2 linked regions of the Homo sapiens genome follow. The protein of the gene in region 1 interacts with the protein of each later gene in a biochemical or structural test. Each region holds a gene or a part of one and is shown on either strand. Other genes may lie near its edges.

Region 1 (8,547 bases):
ACATGGTGAAACTCCGTCTCTACTAAAAATACAAAAATGAGCCAGGCATGGTGGCATGTACCTGTAATCCCAGCTACTCTGGATGATGAGGCATGAGAATTGCTTGAATCCGGAAGGCGGAGGTTGCAGTGAGCTGAGATTGTGCCACTGGACTCCAGCCTGGGTGATAAGAGCGAAACTGTCTCCAAAAAAACAAAACAAAACCCCTCGTGCTATCTAGCACGTCTTCAAGACATGCTTACTTTCAAGTGATCTCAGACAAGCTTAACCTCTTTAAGCCTTTTTCATCTGTAAAATGGGGACAATGGTACTGACTTTAAAAGGTTATTCTGAGAATTAAATAACACACAAAACATAGTATGGAACATCATTAAGACTCAAATTGTAGCAAACTAATATTAACTAAAAAGGAAATTCTTAAGAGTATTATGTAGTCGAGACACAGAGACTTACATATAGACCAATTTTTTCAACTAATAAAATCCATGGTTATTTTAATGAAATTAACTATATGTTAAATCATATTTCATACAGGTTGTTTTTTTTTTTGAGACAGACTCTGGCTCCGTCGCCCAGGCTGGAGTGCAGTGGCTTGATCTCGGCTCACTGCAAGCTCCGCCTCCCGGGTTCATGCCGTTCTCCTGACTCAGCCTCCCGAGTAGCTGGGACTACAGGCGCCTGCCACCACACCCGGCTAATTTTTTTGTATTTTTAGTAGAGACGGGGTTTCACCGTGTTAGCCAGGATGGTCTCGATCTCCTGACCTCATGATCCACCCGCCTCGGCCTCCCAATCATACAGGTTCTTAAAGGCAGTGACCAGGTCCTAACCAGGGTAATATCTAGTGTAAATGTAATTGAGAGCTTGACAAAGTGGATGCTGAGAAAACATCAGCCAACAGCACAGTGAACACCTGATTTTCTGAGACACAACCATGAGACTTTTTATTTGAGACAAGGTCTCCCTCTGTCACTCAGGCTGGAGTGCGGTGGCACTATCATAGCCTCACTGCAACTTCAAGCAGTCCTCCCACCTCAGCTTCCCAAGTAGCTGGGACTATAGGTGTGCACCACCATGTGCAGCTAACTTTTTTTTTTTTTTGAGACAGAGTCTTGCTCTGTTGTCCAGGCTGCAGTGCAGTGGCATGACCTCAGCTCACTGAATCTCTGCCTCCTGGGTTTGAGTGCGTGCCACCACGCCTGACTAATTTTTTAATTTTTAGTAGAGACAGGATTTTACCATGTTGGCCAGGCTGCTCTCGAACTCCTGACCTCAGGTGATCCACCTGCCTCGGCCTCCTAAAGTGCTGAGATAACAGGCGTGAGTCACCACACCCGGTCCCAGCTAACTTTTTAATTTTCTGTACAGACAGGGTCTATGTTGTCCAGGCTGGCATACTTTCAACAGTATTAAATAAGTAACAGCTATTTCATTTGTCTTGGTTGTAGTGGGGAAAGGACTAACACTGACAAAACTGGGAAACTGCTACATCTATTTATATATCCTGAAAATGATGGTTCAATTATTAAAGCCTTTTTTTAAAAAATGAAAGAACTCCAAACACAGAAACTCACACTTGACAGTAAACCAAATGACTGGTCCTAAAAACACATTTAAAACATGGGGAACAGGCTAGGCATGGTGGCTCACACCTGTAATCCGAGTAATTTGGGAGGCCGAGGTGGGTGGATCACTTGAATTCAGCCAGGAATTCAAGACCAGGCTGGCCAACATGGCAAAACCCTGTCTCTACTAAAAATACAAAAATTAGCCAAGTGTGGTGGTGCATGCCTGTAATCCCAGCTACTGAGGAGGCTGAGGCAGAGAATCCCTTGAACCTGGGAGGTGGAGGCTGCAGTGAGCTTAGATTGCACCAGTGAACTCCAGACTGGGCGACAGAGCAAGACTCCATCTCAAGAAAACAACAGGCCGGGTGTGGTGGCTCACGCCTGTAATCCCGGCACTTTGGGAGGCTGAGGCGGGTGGACCACGAGGTCAGGAGATTGAGACCATCCTGGCTAACACGGTGAAACCCCGTCTCTACTAAAAATGCAAACAATTAGCTGGGCGTGGTGGCAGGCGCCTGTAGCCCCAGCTACTCTGGAGGCTGAGGCAGGAGAATGGCTTGAACCTAGGAGGCGGAACTTGCAGTGAGCCGAGATCGTGCCACTGCACTCCAGCCTGGGCAACAGAGCGAGATTCCGTCTCAAAACACCACCACCACCACCACCACCCCGAAAAAAACCCCATGAGGACTGAAGACCAACAGGACCCTTGCCATGAGACAGGAATAACTGCTGTAGCAGCAGGGAGCCTGCACCAGCACAGACACACTGATGGGACGATAGAAACGAGAATGTGAATGTGTAAACCACCAGAGCCAAGAGTATTTTATTTTCTTCTCAGTGGTATCATATTCTAAATAATGGATGTTTTTCTCTAATTTTTAACTGAGAATGATCAAAATGCATGCATTAGGCCCACCTTCATCCTCATCCTCATCTTCATCTTCTTCATCAAGTCCAAATTCTTCTTCCTAAAGAATAGCAAACAGCATAACATTAAATTAATTCTGCCAAATTGAAAAGTGCATATAGTACAAATTCTGCCAAACTAAGAAGTACAAATAAATGCAACAATATCAATCAAGCAGGAAACTGTAATGTTATTTTTATCTACTTTGATGTACCAAGACCCACTGATTTTCCTTAACGAGCTTTATAATTTTTCTAAGAAAAATTTTTTTTAGAAGCAAGCAGTTCATTTGCTAGATGTTTAATTAGTATATAACTCTGGATAATTCAAGAAAACATCTTAAAATCTCAAATTTCAAAACAGATTTAGACAAAAATTTCTATATCCCATTCATATACAAAGCTTCTTTCAGAACTTTAATGTCAATCATACACCTAATGACATCACACAAACCCCAAGCCTTATTTTTATACTACAAAAGAGGATGCGTTTTGTTAACAACTAATGTTGTCTGCCTGTTTCCCAAACCTCTTTGAGGGTCAAAGTCAAGACACTGTTTTCTCCTGCCCTCGTATAGCATTTATTTCCTCAGGGATCCTCTATTATTGGGTATTTCATAAACCAGACTGTGCTCTTTCAGGGCAGGACCACAATCTCATTTCATTTTGTACTCCCAACTCTTTAACATAGCAGATATATATTTACTGAATTACACTGAATATACAAGAAAAAGTTTAGACTTGGTAAACATAAACTTCCCTACAATTCAATGAAGGAACAGACATACCATCAATTCTCAACATGTCCAGTTTTCTCACCACACTGAATACTCAATTCATTCCTTCCCCCAGAGGGCCAGAACTTACCTTGCACAGCCAGGAACCGTACTAGTTTGAGTTCAGTAGGCATTCTATTTAGTAGTTATTTAAAGCCAGACAAACACTAAATTAACCAGATTCATATTGTAAATGTATTCACAGGTATACTAATTTCTTCAAAAGGTGTTTTTTCTTTTCTTTTGTCATCTTTTTGAAACCCCCACTTTTGTTGTAATTACAAATAGGAAGCAGGGTAGAAAACAGCTGCACTGACCTCCTCACTGACTTCATCGTCGTCCTCATCCCCTTCTACATCTTCATCTTCATCATCTTCTTCATCAAACTCCTCTTCTTCACCATCCTCATCGTCCTCGTCTTCCTCATCTTCTCCTTCTAAAAATAGTCCAAAAGGGATTCATTAAATATCCTCGACGCTCCACAGGGGACAAAGTGTTGAGGATCTGTGGGCTGGCTCACAGAACAAATGCTGTAAGGCCACGAACTGCAGTCACTTTCTTTCTACTATGTGCTACAGCTCAGTCCCTTTGTCCGATAGAGTCCCATAAAATCAGAGAGCTAGAAGTCCTGGTAGATAAGACAAACACTATAATTCTCGCTGATGAAATGATACAATGGCTAAGATTTGCTTCAAAATTATATGGAGTGGGGAAGAAGGTAAGGGTATGCAGGAATAAAATAAGATCAGCTATGACCAATAATTGCTGAAGCTGAGTGATAAGAACATGGGGGTTCATTTTGCTATTATTTTTACCCTTTGTCACTGTCTGAAATTTTTGACAGTAAAAAGTTAAAAAAAAAAAAATCATGTACCTTCTCTTGGGTATCATTACCAGAGTCACAGTCAGCTGCTCAAATCAGGAACCTGAGAAACACCCATAATAACCCTGTGACTCAGGGGACAGGAGGCTGAGAGGCACCTGCATCTCTAGCTGGTTGTTCGGACCTCTAGTGCGGCAGTTCTTGCTTCTCCTGGGTCCTAGAGCACACCATGCTCTCACCTGCCTCCTGGTCTCTGCATGCTCTTTCCATCCTCTTTGCTTGGCTAACTCTGACTCCACCTTGGAGTCTCAGTCAACATCACTTCCTTAGGCAGTCTTACTCACCAGACCTCCCAATGCCAGGTCATAGGCTCTCACCATGAGTATGTGGTGCTTCTCCATTACAACACACTTTGCTTACTTGCAATTATTATTTAGAATTCTTAATTTAAAACAATTTTTTCTGTACAGATAGGGTTTGTCTATGTTGCCCAGGCTGGTCTTGAACTCCTGGATTCCAGCAATCATCCTGCCTCACCCTCCCCAAGTGTTGGGATTACAAGTGTGAGCCACCATACCTAGCCTATTTATGATTTAAAAAAAAAAAACAAAAAAAAAAAAACACCATTTCTCTGTAAGGTCCAAGAGGGTAGGAACCTTGTTTTTTTGTTCCTTTTTTTTTTAAACCACTATTTTCCGCAGTGCCTGGCACATAGGAAATGCTCAAGTATTTGTTGGCTGACCCATCTTTGCTCTCAGGAACTGCCCCCCACCTTCCAAGGAATGTCCTTTACTGGCTCTTGCACATGTGGCTGTTCTTCCTGTTTGAGGTGAACTTAAATAGACAACAAGCACAAATGGTTTTTAGGAAAAATGGAAAAACTGTAGAAGGGACAAAGGGACATAACATTTGGAAATAAGTGAGATGTCCTATTCTCTGTCCATTTTACCACCTTATAACTCATTAATTTTTGCCTGTCTCAATATGCTTCAAAATAAAACTGTAAAAATGCTTCCAGAGAATTATACCATTAACTGCACCCAAACTCCTTGATGCTTTTCCTCCTCTATTTTCTTGATAATTTCTGTCATATGTGCTAATTTTTAAAGAAAAGAAATACTCATGCTGACTGATGTGAAAACTAATCATTCTGCTTCCTCCAAACCAGGGGTTCCCAACTCCCAGGACTGGTACTGGTCTGTGGCCTGGGCCGCACAGCAGGTGGTGAAGAGCAGGCCAGTGACCATTACCACGTGAACTCCGCCTCCTGTCACATCACCTGTTAGATCCTCATAGGAGTGCAAATTCTATTGTGAACTGCGCATGTGAGGGATCTGGACTGTGCATTCCTTATGAGAATCTAATGCCTGATCTAAGGTGGAACCGTTTCATCCCAAAACCATTCAGCTGCCGCCCCCAACCCCTTCCCTGCATCTGTGGAAAAACTGTCTTCCATGAAACCAGTCCCTGGTGCCAAAAAGGTTGGAGACTGCTGCTCTAAGCCACCTGTACGTGAGAAGCGTTTTATTCTAAGAGTGACTGAGAATAAACAAACTCAGCATGCAAAGAAAACACAAACTAATCAGGAGGAATATCTTGGGTAGAAAGTATTAGTTATTTCTTAAAATCTGTAAATCTGTAAAATATGTATAAATCCTGGGTCAAATGCCAAAACTACTGAAAATCATCTTTTAATTCTATGTTATGATCAGAGATTATTTCCCTTATGAATGAAAAACGGAATCTAACATATAGTTATTTGAAATCATTACCTTTTAAAACTCTGGTCATATGTCAATGGAAGGGAAAGCTATTTTATTTATAGCTGGCAATAACAAACAGGTACCAAGTACCTACTCAGTGTCAGGCCCTGTGAATCAGGAGATAAGTATCTACCCAAGATGATGACTGTAGTGCAGTAGGACAGCGGTCCTCAACCTTTTTGGCACCAGGGACCAGTTTTGTGGAAGACAATGTTTCCACAGCCTGGGGGTGGGGGGATGGTTTCAGGATGATTCAAACGCATTATGTTTATTCTGCACTTTATTTCTATTATTACATTGTAATATATAATGATATAATTATACAACTCATCATAATGTGGAATCAATGGGAACCCTGAGCTTGTTTTCCCTGCAACTAGACAGTCCCATCTGGGGGCAATGAGAGACAGTGACATTCGAAGTGTGTGCTGCTTATGTCCAGTATACTCCATAATCTTGTTTTGGTTGCTGTCACTGCAGAAAACTTTGCTTCACAAAGATAGGATATTGGAAATGGAAGCAGGTTTTTCAGTGCTTTTTTGGCAATCTCAGGATATTCCACCTCGACTTTAATCCAGAATATATGGAGATTTTGAAGTTGTCTCAAACCATACTTTTAAGGCCACTGCCATTTGTGATCTCAACCAGTTGATCCTCTTCAAGCATGAACAAAGTCGATTGACCTGGCTTATTCATAAATGGGTTGTGGATCCATTCCTTCCCAGTTCGGGGGTCTTTTGTGGTTGGGAAGTAATGCTCAAACTCTTTTGAGAGCTGAGATAGGTGATCATGCACCAGCTGTGAGAAAGAAGGCCCTGGCTCACTCTCTTTCAAAAATCACTCCTACTGTTTGAAACATGTCAAAAATCCCAATGCTCAGAACAGAAAACTAAGTATCGTATGTTCTCACTTGTAAGTGGGGGCTGAATGATGAGTATACATGGACACATGGAGGGGAACAACACACACTGGGGCCTGTGGAGGCTGGGGACGGAGAGCATCAGGAAAACTAGCTAATGGACAGTGGGCTTAATACTTAGGTGATGGGATGGTACACGTTTATCTCTGCGACAAACGTGCACATGTACCCCTGAACTTAAAAAAAAAAGTTTTACCACTCATTCTGTGTTACTAAAATGTTCTGCTAGTGGTGACTGTTATTCTTAGAGAAATCTCTGGAGCAGGCCTCTTAACTCAAAAACTCTGGCCAGTGATCCACCTTTAGAACGCCATCTCGCTTCTCTGTGTAAGAGAAGTATTCTCTGCATCCATCTCACAGAACTGCGTGAACAGACATGGGTTAAGGGCATGTACTTTAATGTGGTTAATTTTAATCACATCCTGCAAAACGTTAAGTTCAGGTGACATTTGTCAGCTAGCCAGCATTTCTCTATGGATGACACAGTGCATAGACTCACATCCAGAAGCGACCTCTCTGACTCGAGTAGTGAAACCAGAAAGCCGTCCAGCCATGGCAGCCGCTCCATCTGTGCATATACGACACAAAATGACCAATTCAGTTTTCCTGATATGTAATCGTTCAAAAGACTTGAATAGTTCTGCAGCTGTGGTGCTGGTTGGCAACGAAGTACACATAACATAGTCTCATGCACATCCTCCTGAAAATATATTGCACAAAAACAAGCATTGTTGCCATGTTGTCAACATCGGCAGACTTGTCAACCTGCAATGTGTACCACGGTGACTCATCAATCCTCTCTAACAACTATGCCTCAATATCCTCTACTATGTCATCAATTCATCTAGTTATGGTGCTAGCTCAAAGAGGAACATGTGCCACCTTTTGAACTGCAGCTTAACTGCAGCCTCTCCTAAAAGTTCATGACAAATGTCCTTAGCAGCAGGCAGGATCAACTCTTCAATAGTAAAGGGCTTCTTACTTTAGCAATGCAGTTAGTTAAGGGCTTCTTAGCTTTAGCAATGCAGTTAGCCACTAAGAATGAGATGTTCTCAGTGCAGTCACATTTGATGAAGTGGGAGCTTTCAATAATTGCCTCTGTTTTTCACGTTCATGTTTATTTCTTTTGAAAAACTCCAAAGGCTTGTCTTTTAAACGCAGGGTGCTTGGTCTCCAAGTGGTGAAGCAGTTTTTTTTTTGTTTGTTTGTTTTTTGAGATGGAGTCTTGCTCTATCGCCCAGGCTAAAGCACAGCGGCACAATCTCGGCTCACTGCAACCTCCGCCTCCCAGGTTCAAGCAATTCTCATGCCTCAGCCTCCCGAGAAGCTGGGACTAAAGGTGTGCACCACCATGCCTGGTTAATTTTTGTATTTTTGCAGAGCCAGGGTTTCCCCATGTTGGCCAGGCTGGTCTTGAACTCCTGACCTCAGGTGATCTACCTCGGCCTCTGTAAGTGCTGGGATTACAGGCATGAGCCACTGTGCCCAGCCAGTGAAGTGGTTTTGAAGGTTTCATGGCTTTGTTGGATAGCTTGTTGCCACATATTATACAAAGTGGGCTTGGAGAATGTGAATCATCTGTTGCAATGAACCTGTAATTTAAGTAGCACTCTTGGTATTTTCTTTTCAATGAAGCTTTCTTTTCATTGGCAGTCTTGTCTTCTGCTGTCTCATTATTGGGTCTTTCCCCCTTCTCAAAGAAGCTCTCCAGCGACGTTTTTTACTCATGTTGGATAGTTAGCTTGTGGGCCTAACAAAACTGTGACTGAGACAAATACGCAGTGCGGGAAAG
Region 2 (8,547 bases), on another chromosome or scaffold:
GGGACTCTCAATGCATATTTCACTGTACCAACTCAAGGAAGAACAGACCCCAGTGACAAGCACACAGATTACACGGCAGTGCGAAACAATCTGCAAGCTTCCCACCAGCTCGCCCCTGCAATCTGGAAAGAGCTGCTGGTAGGGAGGTAAAGTGCAAAAACAGTGTATTCCCCAGAGGAACAGGGGTTGTGGGAAGGGGGTGGCTTGGACGTCACGGCAAGGAAAGGTGTTAAGAGTTAGGTACCAACTGGCCAGGCGCGGTGGCTCACACCTGTAATCCCAGCACTTTGGGAGGCCGAGGCGGGCGGATCACGAGGTCAGGAGTTCGAGACCAGCCTGTCCAACACGGTGAAACCCCATCTCCACTAAAAATACAAAAATTAGCTGGGCCTGGTGGCGCGTGCCTGTAATCCCAGCTACTTGGGAGGTTGAGACAGGAGAATTGCTTGAACCCAGGAGGCAGCGGTTGCAGGAGCCAAGATCACGCCATTGCACTCCAACCTGGGCAAAAGAGTGAGATTCCGCCTCAAAAAAAATAAAAAATAAAAAAGAGTTAGGTACCAACTATGAAGCAAGCAAACCAACCAAACCAGAAATGCAGGACTCCTTAAAGGTTCGGAGATAAAGTAGGGGTTGGGGATGGAGTCTCTCTCAGCTGGGATCTCAGGGATCCCTGCCATCAGGGCATGAGGAGGCCTCCCGATAATCGCTTCCCTCATAGCTTCGGTGACTGACAGGCCCTCTGCGGGTGGTTGTGGCCGCTTTCTGCCATAGGCTCTGGGCCAGCCTGAAGCCTTTACCACTTGTAAATTATCTGAAAAGTTGGGATAATATTGCCTTCAAGTGCATCCCAAAACCTCGAGTCTGTGTTCAGAACAAGATCTAGCGTCCTAAATGCAGGGTTTCCTAAATGTTGCACACTGGGTTCATGTGCTCAGTTGTTTTAGAAAGCGGGCAGGATTGTGCCACCATGATGCCCAACGAGGGGACTTCCCAGTTTGCAGACTAAGCTGTGGACATGGAAACAAACTTAATGGAAACATGTGCTTGTGTCCTGTCCTTTTTTTTTTTCTTGAGACGGAGTTTTGTTCTTGTTACCCAGGCTGGAGTGCAATGGCACGATCTCAGGCCACCGCAACCTCTGCCTCCTGGGTTCAAGCGGTTCTCCCGCCTCAGCCTCCGGCGTAGCTGGGATTACAGGCAAGCGTCACCATACCCAGCTAATTTTCTGTATTTTTAGTAGAGACGGGGTTTCTCCATAATGGTCAGCCTGGTCTTGAACTCTCGACCTTAGGTGATCCACCCGCCTCGGCGTCCCAAAGTGCTGGGATTGCAGGTGTGAGCCACCGCGCCCAGCCATGTGTCCCGTTCTTGCTAAATGGCTCACATCACAGGACGAAATTTTGCAAAGCGGCAGCAGCCTGGAAGAAATTCAAGTGATCGAATGTACACTACAGGATGCCCAATGGGGAGAGACTTCAACTCTGATTTTGGGAGATTGAGTGGTGGATTAGGTAGAAGCTGAAATGTGTACATGCCAGTCTGGCACATTTAGTAACTTAGAAGAGGGTACTAGGCTTAGTACCTGAGTGATAAAATAATCTGTACAACAAACCCCCACGACAAGAGTTTACCTATATAACAAACCAGCACATATAAAACAAAGTAGAAGACTGGGGCGGTGGCTCATGCCTGTAATCCCAGCACTTTGGGAGGCCGAGGCAAGCGGATCACCTGAGGTCAGAAGTTTGAGGCCAGCCTGGCCAACATGGTGAAACCCGTCTCTACTGAAAAGATACAAAAATTAGCCAGGCGTGGTGGTGGGCACCTGTAATCCCAGCTACTCAAGAGGCTGACGCAGGAAAATCGCTTGAACCTAGAAGGTGGAGGCTGCAGTAGGCTGAGACCATGCCATTGCCCTCCAGCCTGGGCGACAGGGTGAGACCATGTCTCAAAAAAAAAAAAAAAAAAAAAGATTTGCACCATTTTTACAACATTTCATAAACCTAAAGAGGAAGCCATTTTTTCCTTTTTCATCTTCTCAGGTGAAAGACAAGAAATGAAGTCATTCAGAAAAATAAATGCTCTTGGCCAAGCACAGTGGCTCACGCCTATAATCCCAGAAACTTGGGAGGCCAAGGCGGGTGGATTACCTGAGGTCAGGAGTTTGAAATCAGTCTGGCCATCATGGCAAAACCCCGTCTCTACTAAAAATACAAAAATTAGCTGGGCATGGTGGCGGGTGCCTCTAATCCCAGCTACTTGAGAGGGTGAGGCAGGAGAATTGCTTGAACCCAAGAGGCGGAGGTTGCAGTGAGCTGAGATGGCGCCATTGTACTCCAGCCTGGGTGACAGAGCAAGACTCTGTCTCAAAAATAAATAAATAAATGGTTCCTTAGAGCTCAAAATCCCGAAAGCGAACAAGGTTGGTGGTTTATGGTCCAGGTGGTCTACTGTACCTGCTTACAGGTACAGATTAAATGACCCATCTCAGGATCTACTACTCTCATATAAAGACCCAACATGAACAAACAAAAGTGCTACAAAACCAAAAACATAAAAAGGCACTGTCTCTTCTGGTTCTACATACTTAAGATAAAAAGTAAAAAATTATAAAATCAAAAGACACCACTAAACACCGTGGGACTCGTGACTGATTTTATCAGTTTGGTCCCTAAGACCTTAAGGACACCATTGTGCTAATAAAAAATCAATAACAGAGACAGACCATGCAAAAGTCCCCCTTATGGGGTCCTTAAAAATGGTTCCAGATGGGGTCTCGCTCTGTCACCCAGGCTGGAGCGCGGCAGTGTGATCATAGCTCGCTGCGGCCTCCAACTCCTCAGCTCAAGTGATCCTCCTGCCTCAGTTTCCCAGGTGGCTGGGACTACAGGCATGTGCCACCATGCCTGGATAACTTTTAAAAATTTTTTTGCAGGGCTGGGTGCAGTGGCTCATGCCTATAATTCCAGCACTTTGGGAGGCCAAGACGGGCAGATTACTTGAGGTCAGAAATTCAAGACCAGCCTGGCCAAGATAGTGAAACCCTGTCTCTACTAAAAATATAAAAATTAGCCAAGTGTGGTGGTGCGCACCTGTAATCCCAGCTATCAGGGATGCTGAGGCAGGAGAATCGCTTGAACCTGGGAGGTGGAGGTTGCAGTGAGCCGAGATCACGCCACTGAACTCCAGCCTGGGTGATAGAGTGACTCTGTCAAAAAAAAAAAAAAAAGTAATTTTTTTTCATAGAGATGGTGTCTATGTTGCCCAGGTTGGTTTTGAAGTGATCTTCAAGCGATCCTCCCACCTCGGCCTCTCAAAGTGCTGGGATGACAGGCATGAGCCACTGTGCCTGGCCCCAGGTAAGGTTTTTAAGATGGCTGGCTGTGCTGACCCTACAGAATTCCCCAAGTCATGCTTCCTGCCGTCTCACTGCCACTTCAGTGCTCAGTGTCTTTGCAGCCCCGTCCCTACATTTCTATGCTTAGACAGGAAGGGCACAGAGAAAGCTGGACCTCGAATCTGAAGTGAGGGGTTACAGCACCAGCTCAGATCCTAATTCCCTAAAACGGCTAAGCTATCACTGATTAGATGTGAACAACGAAGGCAAAACAGCAGGGTGTTATTCACACAGTACACCAGGTACACTGTTGATGAATTAAGTCCCAGGGGCATCACAACGAATGCAGAACTGAACACTGTGAGTTTTGATACCAGGAAGAACTCCACGTCGAGTCCCAGGACCCAGCCCGTGGCCCCGCTCACTCTGCCACAAAACACCTGGGTGACCCAGTGGAGACTGACAGCGCTCTGAGATCCGTGAGCACTGATGTGCAGGGACTCCATGGGAGATACTCACTCTGCGGAGGGGCGTGGAGGTGGGGAAGGGACTGGTACTGCTGTGCTGCTTTGGGGGAGCAGGCGGCCCCTCGGGCGAGCTGGTGGAAGAGGGAGAGCTCAGGGACGAATGGCTGAGTACAGAGTCTTCTTCGGGGAAAGATTCCAGCACCTCACTCTCAGGGGTCATGTTCTTGCCTTGGGGTGTGGCTGGAAGGGACTTGATTTGCGGTGGTCTCACAGCCAAGATGTCCTGCAAGACCACCATAGGCACCTTCCCTTTGAACAGGATGCCCCCAGCTTCACTCCAACTGTCCTGCTCCTTTCTGGGGCACATTCTCGGGCCACTCGTCAGCTCCGGGCAGCTCCGTGGCGAACATTCCTGGGAGTCGCCTCTCCTCCCTGCACCTCCACAGCCAACACCCTCCTCCTCTGTTTTGCAAGGAATGTCTGAAAGGGTCTCTCCAGGAAATGCCAACTTGTCGTTCTGAATGGCCTTCAACAACCCCTGCTGATCCCCAGTGTCTTCTCGCTGGCCATTTATTGCCTCCCTGGAGGGAGAGGCTTCAGAATTTAGTTTATTGTGGTCCACAAGACTGTCTGGCTGCTCATTCGAGTCCTCTGTCAAATCAATGATGACTGTGCTCTGGCCAATACTGGTTTCGATTCTATTTCTTAAAAAGTTATCTAAGGGACCCTTCCCGTTGACAAGTTTCGGTCTAAAGTCTATGTCAGAACCCACATGACAGTTGTTTTCCAAGGTGTCCAAAGAGGCCTCTAAATCGGGGCTTTTACTTTGCACAGAAGTACCCTGATCGTCTGACATGTCATCGGCTTTCCCCTTTGGGACAAGATTCAGGCGCTTAAACGGCAGACGGGCTGAAACAAAGACAGAAAGCCATCTCTAGTGAACGTTTAAAGTTACAACCACTCATGAGCTTGAAAATTACTGATTTGTTGGGACATGGGGGTGGGAGATAATTTTAAAGTTTAAAAAGGGACTATCTGGGCCGGGTGTGGTGGCTCATGCCTGTAATCCCAGCACTTTGGGGAGGCCGAGGCAAGCAGATCACAAGGTCAGGAGTTTGAGACCAGCCAGACCAAAATGGTGAAACCCCGTCTTTTCTAAAACTACAAAAATTAGCCAGGCCATGGTGGCACACGCCTGTAATACCAGTTACTGAGGAGGCTGAGGTAGGAGAATCGCTTGAACCTGGGAGGCAGAGGTTGAAGTGAGCTGAGATCCCAACACTGCACTGTAGCCTGGGCGACAGAGACAGACTCCCTCTCAAAAAAAAAAAAAAAAAAAAAAAAAAAAAAGGCCGGGTGCGGGAGGCCAAGGCAGGCGGATCACAAGGTCAGGAGATCGAGACCATCCTGGCTAACACGGTGAAACCCCGTCTCTACTAAAAGTACAAAAAATTAGCCGGGTGAGGTGGCGGGCGCCTGCATTCCCAGCTACTCGGGAGACTGAGGCAGGAGAATGGTGTGAACCCGGGGGGCGGAGCCTGCAGTGAGCTGAGATCACGCCACTGCACTCCAGCCTGGGCGACCTGAGCGAAACTCTCAAAAGAAAAAAAAAAAAAAAAGACGGGGCAGGGGCTATCTGAAGCCAGGTACACTGACTTACATCTATAATCCCAGCACTTCGGGAGGCTGAGGCAGGAGGATCGCTTGAGCCCAGGAGGTAGAGGCTGCAGTGAGCTGTGGTGGTGCAACTACTCTGCAGCCTGGGCAAAAGGGACCTCGTCTCAAAAAAAAAGAGGGGGTGGGGGGTGCTATCTTTTCATTCTATCCTTTTCTAACATCCTAATTTTACTTATTTTTTTTTCTTTTGGAGACAGTCTTGCTCGTCACCCATGTTGGAGTGCAATGGCGCCACCTCAGCTCACTGCAACCTCCACCTCCTGGGTTCAAGCTATTCTCCTGCCTCAGCTTCTCAAGTAGCTGGGATTACAGGCATGCACTACTACACCCAGCTAATTTTTGTATTTTTAGTAGAGACAGGGTTTCGCCATGTTGGCCAGGCTGGTCTCAAACTCCTGACCTCAGGTGATCTGCCCGCCTCCACCTCCCAAGGTGCTGGGACTACAGATGTGAGTCACCATGCCCCGCTTCAACATCCTAACTTAAAAAACAAAATCCTGACAAGCCTTTTAGCAGAGCCATCGCCAGAATTTCAAGAGACATTTGTTTATTTCAGATGCAGTTCATATTCCAAATTTATTTTTAATGGGTGAAAATCTCATTTGATAATAACTGCATCTGGTTCTCAAGTAGAAAATATAGACACATTTGTGGACAGGGTTTTTTTTTTTTCTCCTGGCCTCAGCACCCTAGGCTCTGTTAGGCTTTTCTCATCAATCAAACTGTTCTCCCAGAGTCTGCCAGGCTTCGGGCTGGTTAGGAGGAACACAGAAACACTTTGGAGAGTGAATTTCCCAAAGAACCTATGTTCACTTACTTCAATGCCATTGCATCTTTTATTAACTATTTCATCATGTAATAGACCAAATAAAAACCTGTTTTTTTTTGGGGGGGGTGTGGGGGGAGTTGTTTGTTTTGAGACAGAGTCTTGCTCTGTCACCAGGCTGGAGTGCAGTGGCGCACCCTTGGCTCACTGCAACCTCTTCCTTCCGGGTTCAAACAATTCTCTTGCCTCGGCCTCCTGAGTAGCTGGGACTACAGGTGCCCCCTACCATGCCCAGCTATTTTGTATTTTAGTAGAGACGGGGTTTCACCATGTTGGCCAGGCTGGTTTCAAACTCCTGAGCTCAGACAATCCGCCCACCTTAGCTTCCCAAAGTGCTAGGATTACAGGTGTGAGCCTAGCATCTGGCGTCCCCCTTTTTTTCAAGAGACAGAGTCTTCCTCTGTCATCCAGGCTGAAGAGCAGTGGTGTCATTATAATTCACCGCAGCCTTGAACTCCTGGACTCAAGCACTCCTCCCACCCCAGCCTCTCAAATAGCTGGTTTTACAGGTATGCAACACTGCACCCAGCCCAAGTTTGAAAAACCCAAAACTGTAGTTTCTAAAAATACAATCTGGGCCGGGTGCGGTGGCTCACACCTGTAATCCCAGCACTTTGAAAGGCTGAGGCAGGGGGATCACAAGGTCAGGAGATCGAGACCATCCCGGCCAACATGGTAAAACCCCATCTCTACTAAAAATAGAAAAATTAGCTGGGTGTGGTGGCACGCGCCTGTAATCCCAGCTACTTGGGAGGCTGAAGGAGGAGAATTGCTTGAACCCAGGAGGCGGAGGTTGCAGTGAGCAGAGATCGCACCACTGCACTCCAGCCTGGGCAACAGAATGAGACTCCGTCTCAAAAAAAAAAAAAAAAAAATTACAATCCAACCGCTCATCTGGCCCAAGGGTGAACACACTCCCCGTTTTATGCAGAAGGATTTGGGAGCATTTATCTTCCAGGACAACAGTGGTTCTCTGAGGGGGCAGTTCTACCTCCCAGGGGACATCAGCCACGTATAGAGATATTTTTGGTTGTTACGACTTGGAGGATGCACTTACTGGCATCCGGTGGGAAGAGGCCAGGGATGCTGCTACGCTCCCTACAACATACAGGAGAGCTCCCAGCTGCAAGTTACAAAACACCAATCGTGCATAAGTGGAGGCCTCGGGGTTTACTTGTGGGAACCCCACGAGACATTACTGTGTGAAAAGCATTTTCCCAGCTTCCTGGTCTGAAGAAGGACTGTTTCTCTCCCCTCTAGCTCCAGGCTTCCACTGAGGTCTCCAACAAGAGACAAGGAAGACTATAAACTACGAACAACTCTTTAACCCATTTCCAAATAATTACCTTGTATTAACTTCTTAACTGGAAAAGCTGGTCTATCTTTGCAATCCATGGCTGCAAATAAAAGTGTCAAAGGGTAAACTGTTAAATTCTGCAAATAATCAAGTTAGCAAATACATATGTAGAGCCAATTATGTACAAGGTGGAGGCAATTCTGACCCCTCTGTCCTCGGGGGCCATTTGACACAGTCTAGAGATGTTTTTGGTTGTCATGATGCAGGGAGGGCTCAAAGGGATGCTATTCACATCCAGTGGGTAGAGGCCAGGGATTCTGCTAAATGTCCCACAATGCAATGCACAGCACACCACAATGAAGAATTATATGGGCCAAAAAAAAAAAATTTTTTTTTTTTTTTTGGAGACAGAGTCTCACTCTGTCGCCCAGGCTGGAGTGCAATGGCACAGTCTCAGCTCACTGCAACCTCCGCCTCCTGGGTTCAAGCGATTCTCCTGCCTCACTCTCTCAAGTAGCTGGGACTACAGGCGCATGCCACCACTCTCGGCTAATTTTTGTATTTTTAGCAGAGACGGGGTTTCACCATGTTAGCCAGAATGGTCTCGAACTCCTGACCTCGTGATCCACCCGCCTCAGCCTCCCAAAGTGCTGGCCACGGCGCTTGGCCTCAAAATGTTAATAGGTTGAGAAATCCTACCCTAGACACTGTCATGTCTTGTTTTATTTTCTTTGTGGCATTTAATCTGAAACTTTCGTGTTTATTACGTCTCTCTGGAAACAAAATGCCAACTCTATGACAGCAGAAAGACTTGTTCCATGCTGCACCTATGGTACCTGGTTAGGGTCTGGAATAAATCAGAAAGCCAACTAAGAGAGTAACCGGAACTGTTTCATGAAATGAAAGTGGAATGAGTAAAAGTAGGGAGGAGAGAAAACAT

What was found.
Region 2: the proteins of ANP32B (region 1) and CHAF1A form a complex in vitro, tested with the Homo sapiens proteins (one study listed by BioGRID).

Annotation. Positions count from the first base shown.
Region 1 is NC_000009.12:98,006,410-98,014,956, reverse strand, and holds part of ANP32B (acidic leucine-rich nuclear phosphoprotein 32 family member B), read right to left. Parts: intron 3,687-8,547; coding exon 3,568-3,686; intron 2,537-3,567; coding exon 2,485-2,536; intron 1-2,484. UniProt on the Homo sapiens protein: Multifunctional protein that is involved in the regulation of many processes including cell proliferation, apoptosis, cell cycle progression or transcription.
Region 2 is NC_000019.10:4,405,072-4,413,618, reverse strand, and holds part of CHAF1A (chromatin assembly factor 1 subunit A), read right to left. Parts: intron 7,708-8,547; coding exon 7,657-7,707; intron 4,717-7,656; coding exon 3,860-4,716; intron 3,115-3,859; exon of another isoform or gene 3,096-3,114; intron 1-3,095. UniProt on the Homo sapiens protein: Acts as a component of the histone chaperone complex chromatin assembly factor 1 (CAF-1), which assembles histone octamers onto DNA during replication and repair.